2 linked regions of the Homo sapiens genome follow. The protein of the gene in region 1 purifies or fractionates together with the protein of each later gene. This does not show direct contact. Each region holds a gene or a part of one and is shown on either strand. Other genes may lie near its edges.

Region 1 (3,827 bases):
ATAAATCCACACCAATCAACAAAATTCACTAGCCCCTCAACATACCACATGTAATGTTCCATGCAAGAAAGCCCTCTTCTCTACTAACTGATATCCTACACTTGCTTTCTGCCCTAGAGGAAGTTTCATCTCTTCTGTTAGGAGAAGTTTTCTTCTCTATAAACTGCCATTAAGTTTTCAACCACTGGATTTCCAGTGGGGTCAGAACTATAGAATCTTAAGCATGGAATAGAGGTTAAAAGATCTATTTTCTTCTTCCACTCTTATCCACACTCACAATCCTTGGCCTTGTCTGACAGATGAAAATAGTGATGGTTAGAGAGATGCCATCCTGACTCTTATACTCTGGTAGTGTCTAGGTTTTCTTCAATACTTTGCTCGGTACTTTAATTGCTTCTCTACCTCCATAGGATATGGAATCCCAGTGTATTACTACTTATTTCATAGTGTATGTAGGTTATTTTGCATGTCCTGCCACCACAGCTATGTAGAGCATGGAACATGGTGTCATGTCTCTGGGGTTCCTAGGACCTTACACATAGCAAGTGCTTAATAAATGAAAGCATATTGAGAAAGTAGACTGGTCATTTTATAATTCTCCCATTTCACTGACTCTTCAGAGATATTTGTTTCCTTGTAATTTTGCTGATTTGTTAGAGTACGGTACTCAACCATTTAATACATTTAGAGATTGAGAAAGGCACATTTTCACTTCCTAATTACAAAATGAGCAAGTTTACGATCTGTGTTTGATACTATAAGGTTTCTATTTCTTTTTTCTTCATAAATGTTTACATTAATACATGTAAAAAAGTTTTAAGAAATAAAATGACTAAACTTGCCTAAACAAAATCAACTAAGCATATTGCCACTACTTTCTGTATTTACATATATATGTGCATACTTAAAAAGTCTATATACCCTAGTTTCAAAAGCAATTGAAATTTCATAAATGCATTTATATATAAATATTCTTAATCTAGTCACTACTATAAAACATGTTTTCCTCAAATTTCCTTTTAGGTTTAAGTTTTAATACTAAAAATAACTTCTTATGGTAATAAAAAATGTTAAAGTCTACATCAATAATATCTCAACAAATGGGAATCATTCCTCTTACACTGAAATTTCCTTTACATAAGTCACCTAATTTACTTATTTAAATGGTTTATTCAAATAACTAGAGTGTTTACATTTGCACCTTTCTTGCAATCACCAATGCATAGTTTCCACCTCTTTTCTGGAAATGTTTCCCAAATGGATTACATTCATATATATAGCAAGCAATTCTAAAAGCAAGCAGTATTACAATCACCAATGTAAGTTGCTTAATATAGTCCCTAAAATATAGTAGGAATTTAGTAAATTATGTTGCTGTTCTGCAATCACCTTTTGCACTTATGGAGTACATCCCACATTTAATAAGCTATTTGGTGCTATGAATCTCCAGGAAAGAACAGAGGCAGGTTTTATGTAAGGTGAAAACTATGAGTTAATTCCCTGGGAATGAAAATCATTTTCATAAAAATAAATATTTATCTTAATAGAACGTTAATCTTACAGTTCTCTTCCATTTCCAGACATCTTGAATCCACCAAAGGGGCACTGGGCACTTACCACGCCATAGCAATTCACCCTGAAGGAAAAGAAAAGTGCATTATAGACAATACTTAAGGTGTGAAAAAAAAATCCTTTTTGGCAGTTTTAGAAATTTGGAAAGCTCCTTACAAACTCCATTAATTTCATTATAACATACTCATCTTGATAAAAAAAAGTAGCACTATAAATTAGAATGCAGACATATATGGATACACACTACCTAGAAACAAATAGAATAGTGCAACTATATATATGGATAGCCATTTTGGTCGTACATTGTGTCCCTGAGAAGTGGTAGTCTGAATTTATAAAAGATAGAATAGTCACTATGCTGTAGGGGGAAAGATATGGTTTGCTAGAAGCTAGAATTTGTTGGATCAGTATTCATTACTGCTTATATATGGATCAGCTTGTAATTCTCTTGATGTTTCTGTACTTAACAGGCTAGAATCAATTTTCTTTTGCAATTGTAATATGTATCATATTACTCAGTTAATTTTTTTTCCCATTAATTGGTTAAATAAATTGCTTAAACAGAGGCCTTGGCAGGAGTTGGGTTTAATTATAATTTATTCCCTGTCATATTTCATAAAGTGTTTAAAGATGCTTATATAAACAAACATAATTACATGAATAGTAGTAATTAGAATCCAACAAAAAATTACAATAGAAGATCTAGATGGGGAAAATTAGAATGCAGTTTTGCAGACCATAAACAATTTGTTTAGCTTTAAATTTGCTGGTGGCCAAAAGTTAGCAAAATCTAATTATTTACCTGATTCTCATTATACGCAAGAGAAAAACACTTTTTAAAGGAGATTTATGTTTATACTTTTCTCTCCCTTCATGCTATTTTAATAAGTGGACAAAAATGTGGCTTCCAGAGCCTGGGTTAGTAGCTGGAGACTGAGGCAGGAGGATCACTTGAGCCCAAGAGTTTGAGACCAGCCTGGGCAACATAGCAAACCCTTGCCTCTACAAAACAAATTTAGAAAACCAACCAAACAAACAAACAAAAAACCAGGGTGGCTTCCAGATAAATTGTATTATACTTTGAAGGTTTGGTCATTACTTTTATCCTGAGATAATATTCAGATGTTTTCTTTGTTAAAACACTATCCCAGTTCCCGAAGTTCCACATTCTCACTGGACCATAAAGTTCTTAACTATGTCTCTCATCCTGGAGGGATAATTCCTTTAATAAATTTACACTTACAAAAGGCAGTATTGTCTCAGCTTTGTTTAATTGCCCTTTAAATTGCAAAATCAAATACTACTTTGAAATTATGAGTAAACTTCCTGCAACTCTGGAGTTCAATAATTTTCCTGAAAACACCAAGCAGCTATTAGGTCTGGGACAATGCCAGAAAATTATTATCTTCTAGGATATGTAGTAACAAGATGGTCCCCTCTGTTTTTCATAATAGAGGAAATTCCTGATCAGGGATTCCCAAGACCCTCAGTGGGGTGATGTCATAACAAGCTTCATCAAACAAGCATGGAACATTCTGCTAGTCGAAAATACAAAACTGAAATTTGTCTTTGTTAAAAAGTGCAGAGAGTAAATTTGCTCATTTTACTGTCAACTAGAAATGAAACTATTTTACTGTGAATTAACAGGGAACTGAGAAATGTTCACTTGGCAAAAACTTTGAGTTCAAAATGTTATCTGTCTTCTGCAAGCGTTTCCTCATGTGTAAAGTGGGGATGATAATATTTAATAGGATTGTTTCAAGGTATGCGTAAGATTGCGTGAATAGTATTCTTGTTGTAGTACTTGGTATAAATATCTTCAGTAAGTGGCGATAATATACATACACACAGTAACTATGCTGAATTTTATTAATGCTTTTATCATAGGCAAATTCTATATTCATCACTAGCTATACCGACTATTCAAGAAGAACTTGCTGAATTTTATTTAAGAGTCTCCCATTAGGCCCACTTCCTATTGCTGTTACAATGGCATTTAAATTGCCACATGGGCTTTGGAGGAGAAATTTAAACTATACACTGATATAATTTGTGTTAATGTATACCCTCCCCTGCCCCAAATCAGTTTATACATTTTTAAAGCCCCCGAGATGATTCTAATGAACAGCCAGGGCTGAGAACCACAGCCTTAGAATATTGTATAGGTCCAGGCCAGCATGGTGGCTCAGGCCTGTAATCCCAGCACCTTGGGAGGCCAAGGCGGATGGATCACTTGAGGTCAGGAGTTCGAGACC
Region 2 (3,827 bases), on another chromosome or scaffold:
TTCACCTGTGATTCCAGCACTTTGGGAGGCCAAGGTGGGCAGATCATCTGAGTTCAGGAGTTCAAGACCAGCCTGAGCAACATGGTGAAACCCCATCTCTACCAAAAAATACAAAAATTAGCTGGGTGTGGTGGCGTGCACCTGTGGTCCCAGCAACTTGGGAGGCTGAGGTGGGAGAATTGCTTGAACCTGAGAGGGTGAGGTTGTAGTGAGCTTAGATCGTGCCACTGCACTCCAGCCTGGGAGACAGAGTGAGAACTTTTCTCAAAAACAAAAAAAAAACAGTATGTGTATACACACACACACACACACACACATACACACACATATATATATATATTTGCTGTGTTGTTTTTCTTAACATGGATACTCTTTGAAATGGGCAGGTAAGCCCTTTGAGCTGTCTCCACTCGTCTGTGCAAAATATGGCTGGGTCACAGTGGAATGTGATATGCTCAAGTGCTCTAGCTGTCAAGCTTTTCTCTGTGCCAGTTTACAACCAGCTTTTGACTTTGACAGATGTAAGTATAAGGTACAAATTACATTTTTCTCCACACTCAAATATATACTATCCTGGTTTTCTGGGGGGGGAAAAAAGGTCATTTTAGTTTGATCAAAAAATGCGTACTTCAATCTTTTTTTTTAATCTTTTTTTTTTTTTTTGAGATGGGGTCTTGCTTGTTGCCCAGGCTGAGCAAGATGTAATAGTGCAATTACAACTCACCACAGCCTCAACCTCCTGGGCTCAAGCGATCCTTCCTCAGCCTCCCAAGTAGCTGGGACTACAGGCGCAGTGCCACTACACCTGGCTAATTTTTGTTTTTTTTTTGTAGAGGTGGGGTTTTACCAGGTTGCTCAGGCTAGTCTTGAACTCCTGAGCTCAAGTGATCCGCCCACCTTGGCCTCCTAAAGTGCAGAGATTACAGGGGTAAGCCATAGTGCCTGGCCAGTCTTTTTTTTTTTTTTTTTTTTTTGAGACGGAGTCTCGCTCTGTCCCCCAGGCTGGATGGAGTGCAGTGGTGCGATCTTGGCTCACTGTAAGCTCCGCCTCCTGGGTTCACACCATTCTCCTGCCTCAGCCTCCCAAGTAGCTGGGACTACAGGTGCCTGCTACCACGCCTGGCTAATTTTTTGTATTTTTAGTAGAGACGGGGTTTCACCGTGTTAGCCAGGATGGTCTTGATCTCCTGACCTTGTGATCCACCCGCCTCAGCCTCCCAAAGTGCTGGGATTACAGGCGTGAGCCACCGTGCCCGGCCTTTTTTTTTTTTTTTTTTTTTTTTTTTTTTAAACTAAGCTAGCTACTGCAGCATGGACTTGACTTAATGTAATCTAGGTAACAGCAGCATGTTTACTTTATTATTCCAAAATGTATACTTCTAGACGAAGAGTGACAAAGGACTTTTATGAAGTCTCACACTTTGGAATGCTCTGCTTTATAAGATACATGGGGGCCGGGCGCAGTGGCTCACGTGTGTAATCCCAGCATTTTGGGAGGCTGAAGTGGGTGGATCACATGAGGTTGGGAGTTTGAGACCAGCCTGACTAACATGGTGAAACCCCATTTCTACTAAAAATACAAAACACTACTCAGGTGGCTGAGGCAGGAGCATCGCTTGGGCCTGGGAGATGGAGGTTGCAATGAGCCGAGATTGCACCACTACACTCAAGCCTGGGCGACAGAGCAAGACTCTGTCTCAAAAAAATAAAAAATAAAAATAAGATACATGGTATCTCCTTTGTTGATCTTAGGATCTCAATTTAAAACCTGTTTTGTGAAAAATATTAAGATTATGTACTTGATAATATTTTCACATTTTAAAATTCTCTTATTTTTAGTTAAATCTCTGCTCTTAGAGGCCATTCATTGGATTTTGAATCTATATAGTGTTTTTTAAGGTGTTGCTGTTTATGTGGATTTCAGATAAGCAACGATGTGCTGAGCTGAAGAAAGCCTTGTGTACTGCCCATGAGAAGTTCTGTTTCTGGCCAGACAGCCCATCCCCAGGTACTTATTTTTGAGAATTCCTGTTCACCATTTTTCCTTCATCATTGCATTTCTAATATTGTCTGTTTGTGAAAACCTAGTCTTTGAACTTTCTTTTTCTCCTTTTCTTTTTTTTTTTTGAGATGGAGTTTCACTCTTGTTGCCCAGGCTGGAGTACAGTGGCGCGATCTTGGCTCACTGCAACCTTCGCCTCCCGCGTTCAAGCAATTCTCCTGCCTCAGCCTCCAGAGTTGCTAGGATTACAGGCGTGCGCCACCACGCCCAGCTAATTTTGTATTTTTAGTAGAGATGGGGTTTCACCATGTTGGTCAATCTGGTCTCGAACTCTTGACCTCAGATGATCCGCCCGTCTCGGCCTCCCAAAGTGCTGGGATTGGGATTACAGGGGTGATCCACTGTGCCCGGCCTCTTTTTCTCCTTTTCTATTTGCATTATTTCCAGAAAAACTTATATTCACTTGTGTTATTACTTACCTTCATGAAGTGCATTTGACATGCTTAAGGCTTTAGACATATATATGCATTATCCCATTTAATCCTTACAGGGGCCCTGGGAGGTAGATACTACCAACCCAGTTCTTTTGGTTTTTTTTTTTTTTTTTTTTGAGACAGAGCCTCGCTCTTTCACCCAGGCTGCAGTGAGGTGGCACGATCTCAACTCACTGCAGCCTCCACCTCCGAGGTTCAAGCGATTCTCCTGCCTCAGCCTCCCGAGTAGCTGGGATTACAGGTACACGCTGCCACACCCTGCTAATTTTTAAAATTTTTTGTAGAGATGGGGTTTCACCATGTTGGCTAGGCTGGTCTCAAACTCCTGACCTCAAGTGATCTGCCTGCCTTGGCCTCCCAAACTGCTGGGATTACAGGCATCAGCCACTGTGCCCGGCCATAACCCAGTTCATTTAGGTGAGGAAACTAAGAATCAGAGGTCTTAAAACCAACTAGAGAGAAGCTATAACTAAGTTTAATCTGATTTCAAACCCTCCGCTTTTCCCACCACACCAAGCAATGCCATGTTCTACCTAGGTTTCCTGTAGAGGGAGTACTAACAGCAATAATGGTGGAAGTTAAACAGGGTTCATTTGCTGAAGAAGACTCACAGGACCCCAAGTGAGAGTGATCACAAATCTGCAGTTTATTGCAGTAAAACAGTACACTATCACAGCAGCACTGAAGTAAGGGTGTCATTACAGCCACAGGCTGCCTGTCTGGGAAGGCCAGGTCCAACCTCCTATTTCCTGTCTATATAAGGGCCATGAGAGGACATACTCTCCCTTGAATCAGGAACTACTGATGTGTGCACAGAACACTTTGGAATAAGAGAGCCCAAAGTGTAATCTCAACTGGGTTTTTAAAAATATTTTGTTCTTTGGCCAGGCACAGTTGCTCCCAACCATAATCCTAACACTGGGAGGCCAAGACAGGAGGATTGCTTGAGTTTAGGAGTTTGAGACCAGCCTGAGCAATAAATATAGTAAGACCTCATCTCTATGAAAAATAAAAAATATTTTGTTGATCACATAGGCATATTCCTGCTGAGTAAACAGCTTCAACAGCAGAGCCCTCTGGTGGGGAATCTAAGAGCAAGTATAAAAAAATTCTTTAGACCCATAGTTAAAAAGCAACACTATTCATCTGTATATTTCATGCCTTGACCAGGAATCAGTGCCATGTAGGTATATTTTTTATTTCAGTAGGATGGCAGGCTAATTCCAGGGTCACTGATGGCTAAGAATATTCCATGATTTACCACTAAAAGGAGAAAATAGATTGAAAATAACCAGAGATTCCCCTCTACCTTTGATCAATGAAAGGGTGGT

What was found.
Region 2: the proteins of ALDH1A1 (region 1) and ZC3HC1 purify together in Homo sapiens (co-immunoprecipitation; one large-scale study listed by IntAct). This does not show direct contact.

Annotation. Positions count from the first base shown.
Region 1 is NC_000009.12:72,904,397-72,908,223, forward strand, and holds part of ALDH1A1 (aldehyde dehydrogenase 1A1), read right to left. Parts: intron 1,637-3,827; coding exon 1,562-1,636; intron 1-1,561. UniProt on the Homo sapiens protein: Cytosolic dehydrogenase that catalyzes the irreversible oxidation of a wide range of aldehydes to their corresponding carboxylic acid.
Region 2 is NC_000007.14:130,037,645-130,041,471, reverse strand, and holds part of ZC3HC1 (zinc finger C3HC-type protein 1), read left to right. Parts: intron 1-370; coding exon 371-521; intron 522-1,924; coding exon 1,925-2,008; intron 2,009-3,827. UniProt on the Homo sapiens protein: Required for proper positioning of a substantial amount of TPR at the nuclear basket (NB) through interaction with TPR.